4 linked regions of the Homo sapiens genome follow. The protein of the gene in region 2 purifies or fractionates together with the protein of the main gene of each other region. This does not show direct contact. Each region holds a gene or a part of one and is shown on either strand. Other genes may lie near its edges.

Evidence for each region. The genes of interacting proteins can lie anywhere in the genome.
Region 1: the proteins of ANKRD34A (region 2) and CBY1 purify together in Homo sapiens (affinity purification with mass spectrometry, with the first as the bait; one large-scale study listed by BioGRID). This does not show direct contact.
Region 3: the proteins of ANKRD34A (region 2) and SRGAP2 purify together in Homo sapiens (affinity purification with mass spectrometry, with the first as the bait; one large-scale study listed by BioGRID). This does not show direct contact.
Region 4: the proteins of ANKRD34A (region 2) and ZBTB21 purify together in Homo sapiens (affinity purification with mass spectrometry, with the first as the bait; one large-scale study listed by BioGRID). This does not show direct contact.

The regions. Positions count from the first base shown.
Region 1 is NC_000022.11:38,666,638-38,670,137, forward strand, and holds part of CBY1 (protein chibby homolog 1), read left to right. Parts: intron 1-1,379; 5' UTR 1,380-1,417; coding exon 1,418-1,495; intron 1,496-3,500. UniProt on the Homo sapiens protein: Inhibits the Wnt/Wingless pathway by binding to CTNNB1/beta-catenin and inhibiting beta-catenin-mediated transcriptional activation through competition with TCF/LEF transcription factors.
Region 2 is NC_000001.11:145,958,941-145,961,575, reverse strand, and holds the end of ANKRD34A (ankyrin repeat domain-containing protein 34A), read left to right. Parts: coding exon 1-1,307; 3' UTR 1,308-2,135; downstream 2,136-2,635.
Region 3 is NC_000001.11:206,392,041-206,395,540, reverse strand, and holds part of SRGAP2 (SLIT-ROBO Rho GTPase-activating protein 2), read right to left. Parts: intron 2,853-3,500; coding exon 2,637-2,852; intron 1,997-2,636; coding exon 1,868-1,996; intron 1-1,867. UniProt on the Homo sapiens protein: Postsynaptic RAC1 GTPase activating protein (GAP) that plays a key role in neuronal morphogenesis and migration mainly during development of the cerebral cortex. Regulates excitatory and inhibitory synapse maturation and density in cortical pyramidal neurons.
Region 4 is NC_000021.9:41,986,361-41,989,860, reverse strand, and holds the end of ZBTB21 (zinc finger and BTB domain-containing protein 21), read left to right. Parts: 3' UTR 1-3,030; downstream 3,031-3,500. UniProt on the Homo sapiens protein: Acts as a transcription repressor.

The sequences.
Region 1 (3,500 bases), on a different chromosome or scaffold from region 2:
GTGAGGAGCACTGTTATCAATCTGGAAAGGAAATATAAGCATAGCTTTACTCATTTATTTATTTATTTTTTTAATTTATTTTTGAGACAGAGTCTTGCTCTGTCACCCAGGCTGGAGTGCAGTGGCGCAATCTCGGCTCACTGCAACCTCTGCCTCCTGGGTTCAAGCAATTTTCCTGCCTCAGCCTCCCAACTAGCTGGGATTACAGGCACCCGCCACTATGCCCAGCTAATTTTTTGTATTTTTAGTAGAGACAGGGTTTCACCACGTTGGCCAGGCTGGTCTCAAACTCCTGACCTCTTGATTTGCCCGCCTCGGCCTCCCAAAGTGCTGGGATTACAGATATGAGCCACCGTGCCCAGCCATTTCTTTCTTTATTTTTTTTTTTTTAGAGACAGGGTAATGCTCTTTGACTCAGGCTGGAGTGCAGTGGCATGATCATAGCTCACTGGAGGCTCAGACTCATAGGTTCAAGTGATCCTCCCACCTAAGCCTACTGAATAGCTGAGACTACAGGCACGCACCACCATACCTGGCTAATTTTTGTATTTTTTGTAGAGACAGAGTTTTGCCATGTTGGCCAGGCTGGTCTTAAACTCCTGGGCTCAAGTGATCTGCCTACCTCAGCCTCCTGAGTCACTGAGACTGTAGTTGTGTGCCACCATGCCAGGCTAACTTTTTTTTTTTGAGACATGGTCTCTCATTCTGTAGCCTAGACTGGAGAGCAGCAGTGGACCACAGCTCACTGCAGCCTCAACCTCCCTGGGCTCCAGCGACCCCCCAGCCTCAGCTTCCCAAGTAATTGGGACTACAGGCATGCGCCACTGTGTGCCACCCAAAAAATCTTAGCATACCGCGTAGCACAAAGGGAGCGTTCAGCACATGGGAGCTATTACCAGGCGTCTTAATCCATTTTGTGCTGCTGTTACAGATTACCACAGACTGGGTAATTTATAAAGAAAAGAAGTTTATTTGGCTCACAGTTCTGGAGACTGGGAAGTCCAAGAGCATGGTGCAAGTATCTGGTGAGGGTCATCCTGTGTGAGGCAGAAGGCTCACATGGTGAGCAAGTGCATGAGACAGACAGCATGGCAGCAGAACTCATCCTTTTGCCAGGAGCCCACGCCAGAGAAAACTAACCTACTCCATGACAATGGCATTAATCCATTCATGAGAGCAGAGCTCACATGGCCCAGTCACCCCTTATACTGTTAAACAATGGCAATTCAATTTCAACATGAGTTTTGGTGGGGACATTCAAACCATAGCACCAGGATCGTTAGTAGCCACATGATAAAATGTATGTCTTCAAGATTTGAAGACAATGGCATAAGGTCAGTGATCCAGCTGCTTGTACCCCTGACTTTTTCTGACCCTAGGAGAAGGGAGCACTGGCTTTGCTTTCATCAGGCCAAAGATGCCTTTCTTTGGGAATACGTTCAGTCCGAAGAAGACACCTCCTCGGAAGTCGGCATCTCTCTCCAACCTGCATTCTGTGAGTGTCGGTACTGGGGTCGGCCGGGTGTGCAGCATGAGTTGAGTGCTGAGCGTGTCTCTGAATGGAAAGTGTGGTCCTCCAGAGGCATCAGTGCAGGAGGGCATCCTTTCCGTCCATATCATTGCTATTGCGGAAAACATTTTTGAACTCTTGTTTGGGAATGATCGTCAGAGCTTGTTTATCCAAGAACCTAAGAAGACAATCTCATTATGATATTTGACCCCAAATATCCAAATTTTTTTTTTCTTTTTTGAGATGGAGTCTCACTCCCGTCCCACAGGCTAGGGTGCAGTGGCGCGATCTTGACTCACTGCAACCTCCACCTCCCGGGTTCAAGCGATTCTCCTTCCTCAGCCTCCTGAGTAGCTGGGATTACAACTGCCCGCCACCATGCCCGGCTAATTTTTGTACTTTTAGTAGAGACAGGGTTTCACCATGTTGGCCAGGCTGGTCTCGAACTGCTGATCTCAGGTGATCCACCCGCCTTGGCCTCCCCAAGTGCTAGGATTACAGGTGTGAGCCACTGTGCCCAGCCAGTATCATCCAATTTGACTTCTACTTTATTCTGTGACCTTTTCCTACAGAGCTAGCTATGCAGACTGGCCATGTCTTCACAGAAGGCGAGTGGGGTTGAACAACAAGGCTGTGGGGGCTGAGCATTCACTACAGGTTTCAGGTCTTAAGAGTCTGTTGTCTCCTGTTCCCAGTGAAAATCATGGTGGGGGCAGCCCCACTGTGGCCAGAGCTGGGCATTCTGTGGAGCAGGCCAGGCAGAGGCTTAGGATCTCAGTTTCTGGTGCCCCTAGGCCTGAGGCTCCCTTTCCTCTCTGCCATGTGTGAGAGATGCAGATACACCTGGCGGTCCCTCTAGGACATCCTCTGTCCTAATCCCACACAGCGTAAGAGCAGCAGTGTGCTTACATGACGTCTGTCTCTGACCGTGACTTGAAGTCGGTCCTCCCCTACATTGTTTTCCACATGCTGACAGGTACTTGTAAGCCTTGGTACTTGTAAGGCCTCCACAGCGCTCCATATGGTCACTGGTGGATTTTATTAGTTCCCCGTTATTACAGGATAACCACCCAGATCTTGGGAGCAGCACAAATGACCCTTGGTGGCCTCACTCCAGCTCTCCTTCCTGCCCTTGCCCTCTGCACACCCTGTGCTGCAGCCGCCCAAGCCCCGTGTGAACCTCCTCTGCGCACGCTACTCCTTCTGCCTAGAATGTTTAATTCTAGAATCTAGAATAGATTAATTAAAGAGCTATTGATTGATACCTTTCTATGTGCCAGGCACTCTCCTAAGCACTGGGCATGCAGAAGTGGATGAAGGAGGGGAGAGAAAAACATCAAATCCCTGCTTTCATGGGGCAGATACTTTAACGGAAGGCTACAGAAAATAAGCAAATTTATATCAGATGGTGATATGTGCCAGACAGCAAAACAAAGCATAGGCCTGGGATGGGGTGTGGCTGAGCACTGGGGACTGAGCTTTCATTTTCAACAGGGTGGTCAGGAAGGCCTAACTGAGAAAGGGACATTTGAGCACTTACCTGAAGGTCTCCCTGTGTTGAGCCGCTATTGAGGGCAGAGCTGGTCATACGCATCCCTGGATACCCAGTACCGAGTCCCGAATCGGGGTGGGTGCTCAGTGAGTTGTAGAAATGAATATCTAGGCCAGGCGCAGTGGCTCATGCCTGTAATCCCAGCACTTTAGGAGGCTGAGGTGGGCGCATCACTTGAGGTCAGGAGTTTGAGACCAGCCTGGCCAATGTGGCGAAACTCTGACTCTACTTTAAAAAATACAAAAATTAGGCCGGGCACGGTGGCTCACGTCTATAATCCCAGCACTTTGGGAGGCTGAGGTGGGCGGATCACAAGGTCAGGAGTTCGAGACCAGCCTGGCCAATATGGTGAAACCCTGTCTCTACTAAAAAATACAAAAATTAGCCAGGTGTGGTGGCGTGCGCCTGTAGTCCCAGCTACTCGGGAAGCTGAGGCAG
Region 2 (2,635 bases):
ACCTCCTGGAGCAAGGCGCGGACCCCAATATCGCAGACCGATTAGGGCGCACGGCGCTCATGCACGCTTGCGCCGGGGGTGGGGGCGCCGCGGTGGCCTCGCTGCTCCTTGCCCACGGCGCAGACCCCTCAGTCCGAGATCACGCGGGCGCCTCGGCTCTTGTCCACGCCCTGGACCGCGGGGACCGCGAGACCCTTGCCACACTGCTGGACGCCTGCAAGGCCAAGGGTACGGAGGTCATCATCATCACCACCGATACCTCGCCCTCAGGCACCAAGAAGACCCGGCAGTATCTCAATTCTCCACCATCCCCAGGGGTGGAGGACCCTGCTCCCGCCTCTCCTAGCCCGGGGTTCTGCACGTCGCCTTCGGAAATCCAACTGCAGACCGCTGGAGGAGGAGGGCGTGGGATGTTATCCCCTCGCGCCCAGGAAGAAGAGGAGAAGCGGGACGTATTTGAATTCCCTCTTCCTAAGCCCCCCGATGACCCATCCCCTTCCGAGCCGCTCCCCAAACCACCACGCCATCCCCCAAAACCACTCAAAAGGCTCAACTCCGAGCCCTGGGGCCTAGTGGCCCCTCCTCAACCAGTCCCACCCACTGAAGGGAGACCGGGGATCGAGCGCTTGACTGCCGAATTCAATGGCCTGACCCTGACCGGTCGACCCCGTCTTTCCCGACGTCACAGCACCGAAGGCCCTGAGGACCCGCCCCCATGGGCGGAGAAAGTGACTAGCGGGGGTCCTCTCTCTCGCCGAAACACAGCACCAGAAGCTCAGGAGTCTGGTCCCCCTTCAGGGCTGAGGCAGAAACTGAGCCGCATGGAGCCAGTGGAGCTGGACACCCCTGGACACCTTTGCCCTGACTCGCCTGAGTCCAGCCGCCTGTCCCTGGAGCGCCGCCGATACAGCGCCTCCCCGTTGACCCTCCCTCCAGCCGGCTCGGCTCCCTCTCCGCGCCAGTCCCAGGAGAGTCTGCCAGGGGCAGTATCTCCGCTAAGCGGAAGGAGGCGGAGTCCGGGGCTGCTGGAGCGGAGGGGCTCGGGGACGTTGCTCCTGGACCACATCTCGCAAACGCGGCCGGGTTTCCTACCCCCTCTCAACGTCAGTCCCCACCCTCCCATCCCTGACATTCGCCCACAACCCGGAGGTCGGGCGCCTTCGTTGCCTGCCCCTCCTTATGCCGGGGCGCCAGGCTCTCCCAGGACCAAGCGCAAATTGGTGAGACGCCACTCCATGCAGACTGAGCAGATCCGCCTGCTGGGGGGCTTCCAGAGTCTAGGTGGGCCTGGGGAGCCAGGGCGCTGAGAGGAGTGAGAGGAGCCAAGGAGGGTGGGGATTAGGACCTTAATGGGATAGGTGGGAGAACCAGCTCACACACACACCACGAACAAAGGGATCTCTTGCATGTGCTCATGGGTGCACAGTGCACCCACACATGGTTAAACATGTGTCCATAAGCACAGTACTCTTATTAGCAAGAAAGAATAAGTACTCTATTTACTGGGTATATACACACATGTATTCATGCCCTGGTCATTTCACATGCATATGGGATTACTTGTGTACCTACAGGCACAGCATATCAATAAACACACAGGGCTAGGGTCCCAAACTCTCTTGCATTTGTTCAGAAGCAGTAGGGAACCCTTACTTATGGGCAGTCTCCGATGTCTTTGCCCTCCTGCAGAAGCAATCCCTTGCTTTCCATGTATGCCCTGAAACACAGCCTATCATGATTTTGCACACTCTCTCCGTGGACATCCCAGCCCATTCTGCAGGTCTTGCTTCTTTCTCCAGGCCTGGCTCCTTATTCACACCCTGCTTCTAACCCCAACCACTTTTCAGGATATCTTTTTCACTCTTCTTGGGGGTTCCTGCAGCAACCCCCAGCCTCAGTTCTGCTGCTGTCTTTACTGCTCTCAACTTCACTTCTCAACTTCCTGCTTTTTATTCCCACCCTGTTCCTCCAACAACTACAACAGATTGTCTCATTTTCCCAGGGGGTGGGTCATGGGCTCTAAGCTGCTCTTCTGTCTGTCTGAGCTTATGAACACCCCCACAGGTAGAAGTGGGGAGAAACCCTAAATCACTCCTCTCTCCACTTGACATATCAAATAAATGTGTTCAGAAGTCTCTGTTTTGTCACTTCTGCCTGGAGGTGTGGGTATGGGGAATGAGGAATGGGGAGGGAGGGTAACACTAACTTATAGCTATAATTATCCAAGGGATACTTAGCTGTTCCAGCCACCTTCTTTCCAAGAAACCAACTTTTCTATAGAGAAAAGGCAAGTGTCCTGTGTCCTGAAGATTTTAAGGCATTTGACAGGATTTCATTTCCTCCAGTTTCCTCTATGTCCAACCTTGAATTCTTTAAGGTTCCTACAAAGAGTTCCTCCCTCCATCATCAGCAGATATATCCCAGTAGATTAACTGTCTCCTTTTGAAACTTCCTATTTCTTGACTACTCACAGTTTTTATTCAGGGTCTAATTTTCATTTCACCAAGTGTGTTTCTTCTATTTTCTTCTACTTCTGGCCTCTATTTCCCCATCTTTGATTTCTGAGCCACTGTAGGAGAGATGGGGGGAAGCAGTTAATATAATCTCACCTAAGCAAAAATGGCCTGGTGACCAC
Region 3 (3,500 bases), about 60 Mb from region 2:
CTTATGCTGAGAACAGGCCTCTCTCCCAACAATGAGGAGCTCTTCCCCTGAGGAGGAGAAAGGATCTTGTTTAGGGCTCTGACCTCCATTGAAGGACAGTGTTCAGATTGTCATCAATAAGCAGAGAGAACAAAGAGGTACCAGAACAGGGAGCAAGGCTCTACTAACCCAGTGAGACAATGACACCTAGGGCATTAAGTGGCTGAAATCTACTGAATCAAAAATCCTCGGCTAAAGGGAGACAGGAATCTGTATTTTAGAGAAGTTCCCCAAGCAACTCTTACGTGAGGCCAGATTTTAATACCAGGGAATTAGTCCAGTTCTTCAGTTAGCTAGAGGAGCTTGGGAGTGGGTGAGAAACAAAGCTGGGTTTCAGAACAATTCAGTGACAAGCCTAGATGACCCAGGTGGTGATATAACAGCAAGACTCGGACCCAAATCCCATATGATGTTGTGAGGTGTGGCAGGTTTGCTTGTGGAGAAACCAAGGCAGGAAAGCAAGAGTGGTCGGGCCAGAGTTTTGCAAAGCCCAACTGCTGCCAACAAGACCCTGAAACAAATGGCAGGCCTCCGAGATGAGATACACTTGAAGCCCCAGAGACTGGGATGCTAAATTGGCTGGCTCCAGATGCCTCACTTTGATGACTGGAAGGAGAGGTGAGAAAGGGTGTAATTACATAGCTTCACTTAGGTGTGGCTCAGGACCTGGGCCAGATTGGAGTCTGTAGGTGAGAGGGCTTGTAAGACCCAACTGTAAGGGGAAGCAGCAGGAAAAACAAGGCCAAGAATAACTCACAGGCAAAAAACAAAAAGCTTATCCCTGCGCTTGCCCCTTGCAAAACACATGTGCCTATTAGCCGCTTTCCTCAATCCCCTTTGCATCACATATTTTAAAAAATGGGCCAGATGTCAGGGGGAGCTGGATACCTTCCTGACAGGACCCTAATTTGCAGCATAACCTTGGACAAGTGAGTCTCGTAGTCCTCTGGACCTTGAGCTTCCTTATCTAGCAACTGGAGACAGCAATGCTTACCCATAATGGTGATGTGAGAGTCAAATGAGTTAACACTGAGAAACCTTAAATGCTATACAAATATAAGGGATGGCATTGTAACTCTTTAGTTAAGTTCTTGCCACTCACTTCTGTGCAAGAGAAGCTGATGTAATAAAGTATTTCCTAGGTCGGGTGCAGGGCCCACACCTGTAATCCTAGCACTTTGGGAAGTCGAGGCAGGTGGATCACCTGAGGTCAGGTCACCTGAGGTGAGGAGTTCCAGATCAGCTTCACTAACATGGTGAAACCCCATCTCTACTAAAAATACAAAAATTAGCTGGGCATGGTGATGCATGCCTGTAGTCCCAGTTACTGGGGAGGCTGAGGTAGGACAATTGCTTGAACCTGGGAGATGGAGGTTGCAGTGAGCCAAGATTGCACCACTGCACTCCAGCCTGGGGGACAGAGCAAGACTCTATCTCAAAAAAAAAAAAAAAAAAAAAAAAAAGGAAGAAAGTATTTCCTGGCAGATAGACGAGTGTAGTGGTTATGAGCCTGGGTTGAGTCATCAGGCCTAGGTGCAAATTTTGCCTCTGTCATTTGTTAACTGACTCTGACTAAGTCATCTAAACTCTCTGTTAATCTGTAAAAATATAGATAATAATGCCTTCCTCCCAGAATTCCAGTTAGGATTGAATAAGTGTGAAGTGTTTCACTTGGTGCTTGGCAAGCACCCTGATGGATCATGGCTGCTATCTTCCTAATTGTTCTCAAAATGCACCAGATTCCTGAACAATAGTATCGGGGAATGTCTGACGAGTATTCTGAAACCAGAAAAGAGGTGCCCTCAGGCCCTTGGCTTTAAGCACTTACATCAATAAGGTCAGATAGGTCATGGATGTAGTACTTGAAGACAGATGCATTGGTTGCCTCCAAAGCCAGCAAGTACTCATTCCGGGCTTTGATGGCCTTCAGCTTATTCTCCGTGTACTTGGCTTGACGCTGAAAAGGAAACAGAAGTTCACTTTTACCTTTTTTTTTTTAAGGGGGGCTTGTTCTCTAAAAGATAAAAGTACAGTGTATTCAAGAACTACAATTGTGTTGCTACTCCCTATGCGCATCTGCCTTAAATTGGGTTCTAATTCTGTTTAATGAGATTCAAGGGCACAATGTAGATCAATTCAGGAAAGGTTAATGAGGCTCCCTACTTAAGATGCGTGCCCCACTTTGATTCTATCTTCAAATATCATTCTTCATTCTTGCAATGCCACTCTGAAGGAGGTACCACTACTCTTGCCCCTGAACACCTGATACCTGAAACCAAATCCTGGGTTTACAGTCACCCCCAACCCCTCCAAAGCAATAGGATATTGAGCTCTATTTGGAAAATGGATTGGGAAAGGTGACTGCTGTTTCTTGGTTTTCTGCTAGAGGCTAGAAACTTGGATCCCACGTGCCCAGTTCTTCCAATACCTAGTATTCCTGCCAGGGCACAGAGCAAGGCCTCATTTTCAGTCATTAGGCACTAAAAGAACCCAGAGCTTCCTCGTCTGCTCTTCCCAGTGACTACTGGGAAATTCCTATCAGCCATGCCTTACCGAATGTTGCTTCCCAGCATCTACAGCTGTGGGAGCCTACATACCTTCTCCTTCATCTTCTCAATCTTCTTCACTGAGCTCCTCCGGACATGTTTCTCCTCAATGCGAACGTTGGCCGTGGAGTCAGGGGAGCGTGGGGTCTGCCGGTCCTCCTGCTTTACCGATTTACCAATTTGCTTCTCCTCCTGCTTCTCCGCCTCCTTTAGTTTGCTCTGAGCACTGATGCTGTCGGCATTGTACATGTGATATGTCTTCATCACCTGCAAGACATCGCCCACCCCCACCCCCAGAGGTCAAGCCAAGGGGGTCATTTCTCTGCTTTACAGACTAACAGACTCAGCTGGAGCTCTCCCCCATGAAGCAATATCCTCACACCCCTAAGGGAAAAATCCAGAAGTGTTTGGTTCAGCAAACACAGATTAAAGACCACTCCAAAGCACAGGAAAGCAATATGTGAACTGAGCCAACATTTCCTCTTATTGAAATAACTTAATGTCTATCCATCATGTATTATTTATTTCTATTCATTATCATTTGTAATCATTTCTCTTTAATATTGGCCAGGTGATTTCTATCACTTAGTCACCTCATAATACTGAGTAGATGGGAAACAACACCACCACTCTCAGGCCCCAAGGGCAAAGCCTTTCTGGGCTGGTCAGGAACCCCGAAGAGGGCAGTGCAGCCTATGGAGTAGCCTATGCTTTCTGTTACCTTTCAGATATAAAATAGGGAAGAGGAAAAGCTTCCAAAAGCTCCTTTTACCGGCCTGGCATTCTGGGGATCTGTCTGTTCTGCTTTATCCAGATCAAACACCCTCTCACAGCAACTGCAATGCCAGTTATCATTTACTGAGCACTTAGTATATTCCTGGCTTTATGCCAAGTACCACACAACACATTTTCTCA
Region 4 (3,500 bases), on a different chromosome or scaffold from region 2:
AGAGCAGAGGAGAAACACCTCACTGCAGTTTCAACATGCTTTCCAAGAACAATATATACGACATATACATTTTCCTGCCTCTCTCTTGTGACAATTTCTGTTAGAATTTGTTGGGGGTCTGATGGTTAAAATCATGGGCAAGGCCATTCTCTACATCATTGCTTAATATTTCAAAAATAGGTATTAGAGCACTATCAGTGGTCCAAAATTAGTTTTAGCTACTTATTTTGCTCCATGGGTTTTGGGCTTTTCAAAGAATACTATGTATAATTTGTAATTGAAAGCCTTTCAGTAGGATATCCAAAGTTCAATGTGTTTCAAAAGGGAAAACTTTTACTTGTGGGGGTGGGAGTTAGATGTATTAAAAAAACGAAACTACAAAATCCTTTTAAGAAAGTAATACCAATTTAGACTCTAGTTTGTGTTACGAGGTATTCTTTCAAATTTTTTTTAAAAGCCAACTACTGTCATTAAGAAATAATTTTAGATTTGTGCTCTAGCAGAAAATAACTCTGTACCCATCAATCTTATTGCCAACATTCCATACCAGTGGTAGGAAAGATATTCTCATTTTTTTTATTGAACCAGACATTTTTATAAAATACTGATTGACTTTGTACATTATGGATATTATATATGAAATTTTGCCTTGTATTCTTTCACTTGAAAAAACTCCAAAATTCCACAATATTTTAGTAGTTAACTTCCTATTCTTTCTTAAATTTGATGGAGAAGGGAAAATAAATTGCAGTTATTGATTCTTGCCATCTTTGTTTTCTTAAAGAAATCTATGCATTTTAAGGATAAAACTAAAGCATATGGGTTTACATGAAACATCAGGATGGATTATTGTACATTGAATTCATTCCGCGTATAATGTGGTATTTCTTACTCTGTCCATCTTGGTAGCTGTCACTTCAAAAGAAGACAGTTTCCCTGAGTAATCATCACCTACATGGCCATTAGAGTATCTATCGGTGATAATTCCATGATACAGAGTATCTTGGCATTATAAATTCAGTATCCCAGGACCTAAACCTTTATGCTACATTTTCGAAGATTTTTTAAAAATAATATTGTTAATCAGTAAAAAAAAAAAATATTTTTGATCTAAACATAGGTTCTGCATATCTGTTAGATTTTAAAAATGACTGGTGTTTTGTCTTCACATTTTTGTCTAAGCAAGGAATATAAGATTTCAAATAAAATTTTGAACCAAAAACATTTATAATGCCGTTCTGGTTTTTCTATTACTTTTTATACTGTACTTTAAAAGCATTAGGCTGAAAGAGTTTATTTTGGTGGTCAAAAAAAATATGCTTCCACTCATGTAACTATTTTAAATGTTAAGAAGTAAAATAATGAAAGATATGTTAATTACTTTATTCAGTAAAGTTTTTTAAGAATGTTTATCTCAGCCAGTAGGCAAATACTTGGTGTAAAACAAGTTGGTCTTAAATTGTTGCAACTCATTAGCTAGTGAAGATATTCATGTAAATATATTTTAGGATTGTAATTAATTTTGAAAATGTAGAAAGCTCTTTATTCCATGTAAGTATGCAGGATGCCTGCTTTTTTATGCAGTTGTGGAAAGAATGTAAAATGTTTTAATATATTCTTTGTTAATCTGAGAACTTGATACTGAATCGTTTATGTGGGAGAAGGAAGGAGTAACATAAAACATGTTTTTATCACTCAAAGTAAGCAATGGAGGTAACAAATATTGTGCATTTTAACAGTAATATTTGAAGATTTGTAGAATATTCACCTTTAAAACTAGTTAGTATGCATTTATAATTTTACCAGAATATACAACTAACAATTCAACAGTGATGTTCTTTGCATTTGTGGGGAGATGTGTGATGTTCTTGGTTTTCTGGTTTGGAATGGAACGTTTATAGCCTTGCCTGTAAAAATGTGCCCCAGCACTTAATGAGTGACCGTTTGAATCCATATGTAGTCCCATTGGTGCTAATGAGAGTAGCTGCTGTGAAACAGGAATAAAATGTGTCTGTTCACGGAGGTGCGGTGTGGATGCACCTACAAGGCCAACTCTCTGATCAGGGTGAGGGAGAGATGGAAGAATTAACAGATCTAAAGTTGGCCTTTGTTGTCTCAAATTGGGTTTGTACACACATGCATGCATGTGTGTATACAACTGTAATCTGGAACTTCAGGAAGTAAAATTATTTGAAGTTTCTTAGTAAAAAGTAATTAGGTATAATTCCAAATAGATTTCTGTATAAATTGTATCTAACTGGATTACAAGTCAGTTTGACAATTTACGATGTCTCAGTGATGTTTCTGCAATAATTGTGAAATGCATTATTGATTTAAATAATGCTGACACGTACTCTTTAAAAGTGTTCTTTAACACTGACTACTAAACTTTAAGTTTTAAAAAATAGGTTTTCATTTATGGCTTTTTGTGGTTTTAGCACTTTAAGAAGTTTAATTTTTTGTAATTTTTAATATGCTCTTTCAGTGTATCTCAGCGGGTACTCCAGCTTGTGGCATTCCCATGTGACTGGGGAGAAGACAAAATTGGTGTTTAGATTCTGGAGGAGAAAAAATGAGTTACAATGTCAGGTGTTTTTAAAAATTCCTTTTAGAGACAGTCTTTTGGGAACCAAAGTATTTTACTGTAAATCTTTAAAATAACAGAATTCAGTGCTCTTTCATTTGTTAATGCTGTCCAGATTTTTCACACAGTTATACTCAGTTAATACTAGTTTTCAGAACATTAGTCCAAGGCTATTTCAAGTTTTCCATTGAATATATGCTTATGGTTAAAAGAAAAACGAATGGTTTTATAATTCTGTGTATTTTGTCATATGCCTTAGCAGAGTAAGTCATTTTTCCATTTTACTTAGGAATAAGCTTTTTCGAACTGAAAATTCATGGTAAAATAGGATTTCTATCTAATGTTAATCCATTGCTTATTTGTATTCAATTCCATTGTCTACAGTTTGCTTAAATGTTGACTAAGAATGATTGGAGTCAATAAATTTGTACTGTATTTTGCTTCGAGTCAGTCTCAATGGTATGCCCTGTACTTTGATAGTAACCGGGTGTAGCATTTACATTTGTGAAAGTAAAGTTAAAATCTTCCTATTTGGGTAATGTGAATAGCTGTGAGAGATTTAATTTTCCCCCGTTCCAGGTTGCTTATAGAATTAAGGTTGTATTAAAGCTTTAGTTATTTGGGCATCGCAAATACGATGATTAAAACCAGATAGGCAACCATCTTTGCTCATCTGCCATTTCCTTTACTATTCGAACTGGTAGTTTTTAAGTTGATGGGGCAGGGGGGTAAATGCAGAAAAATAACATTTTTAAGTACCCTGCATTGATATTTCTGCATAGCAGTTGATAAACCAGTTTTATTTGATAATCTAAAGAATTTAATGTCATAGCTTTTTTTTTTCATTCTAATGAGGTTTTTCTGTAAAACCGGGGTATATCATTTTTAAAAATTTTATTAGCTCTCCCTGTAACGT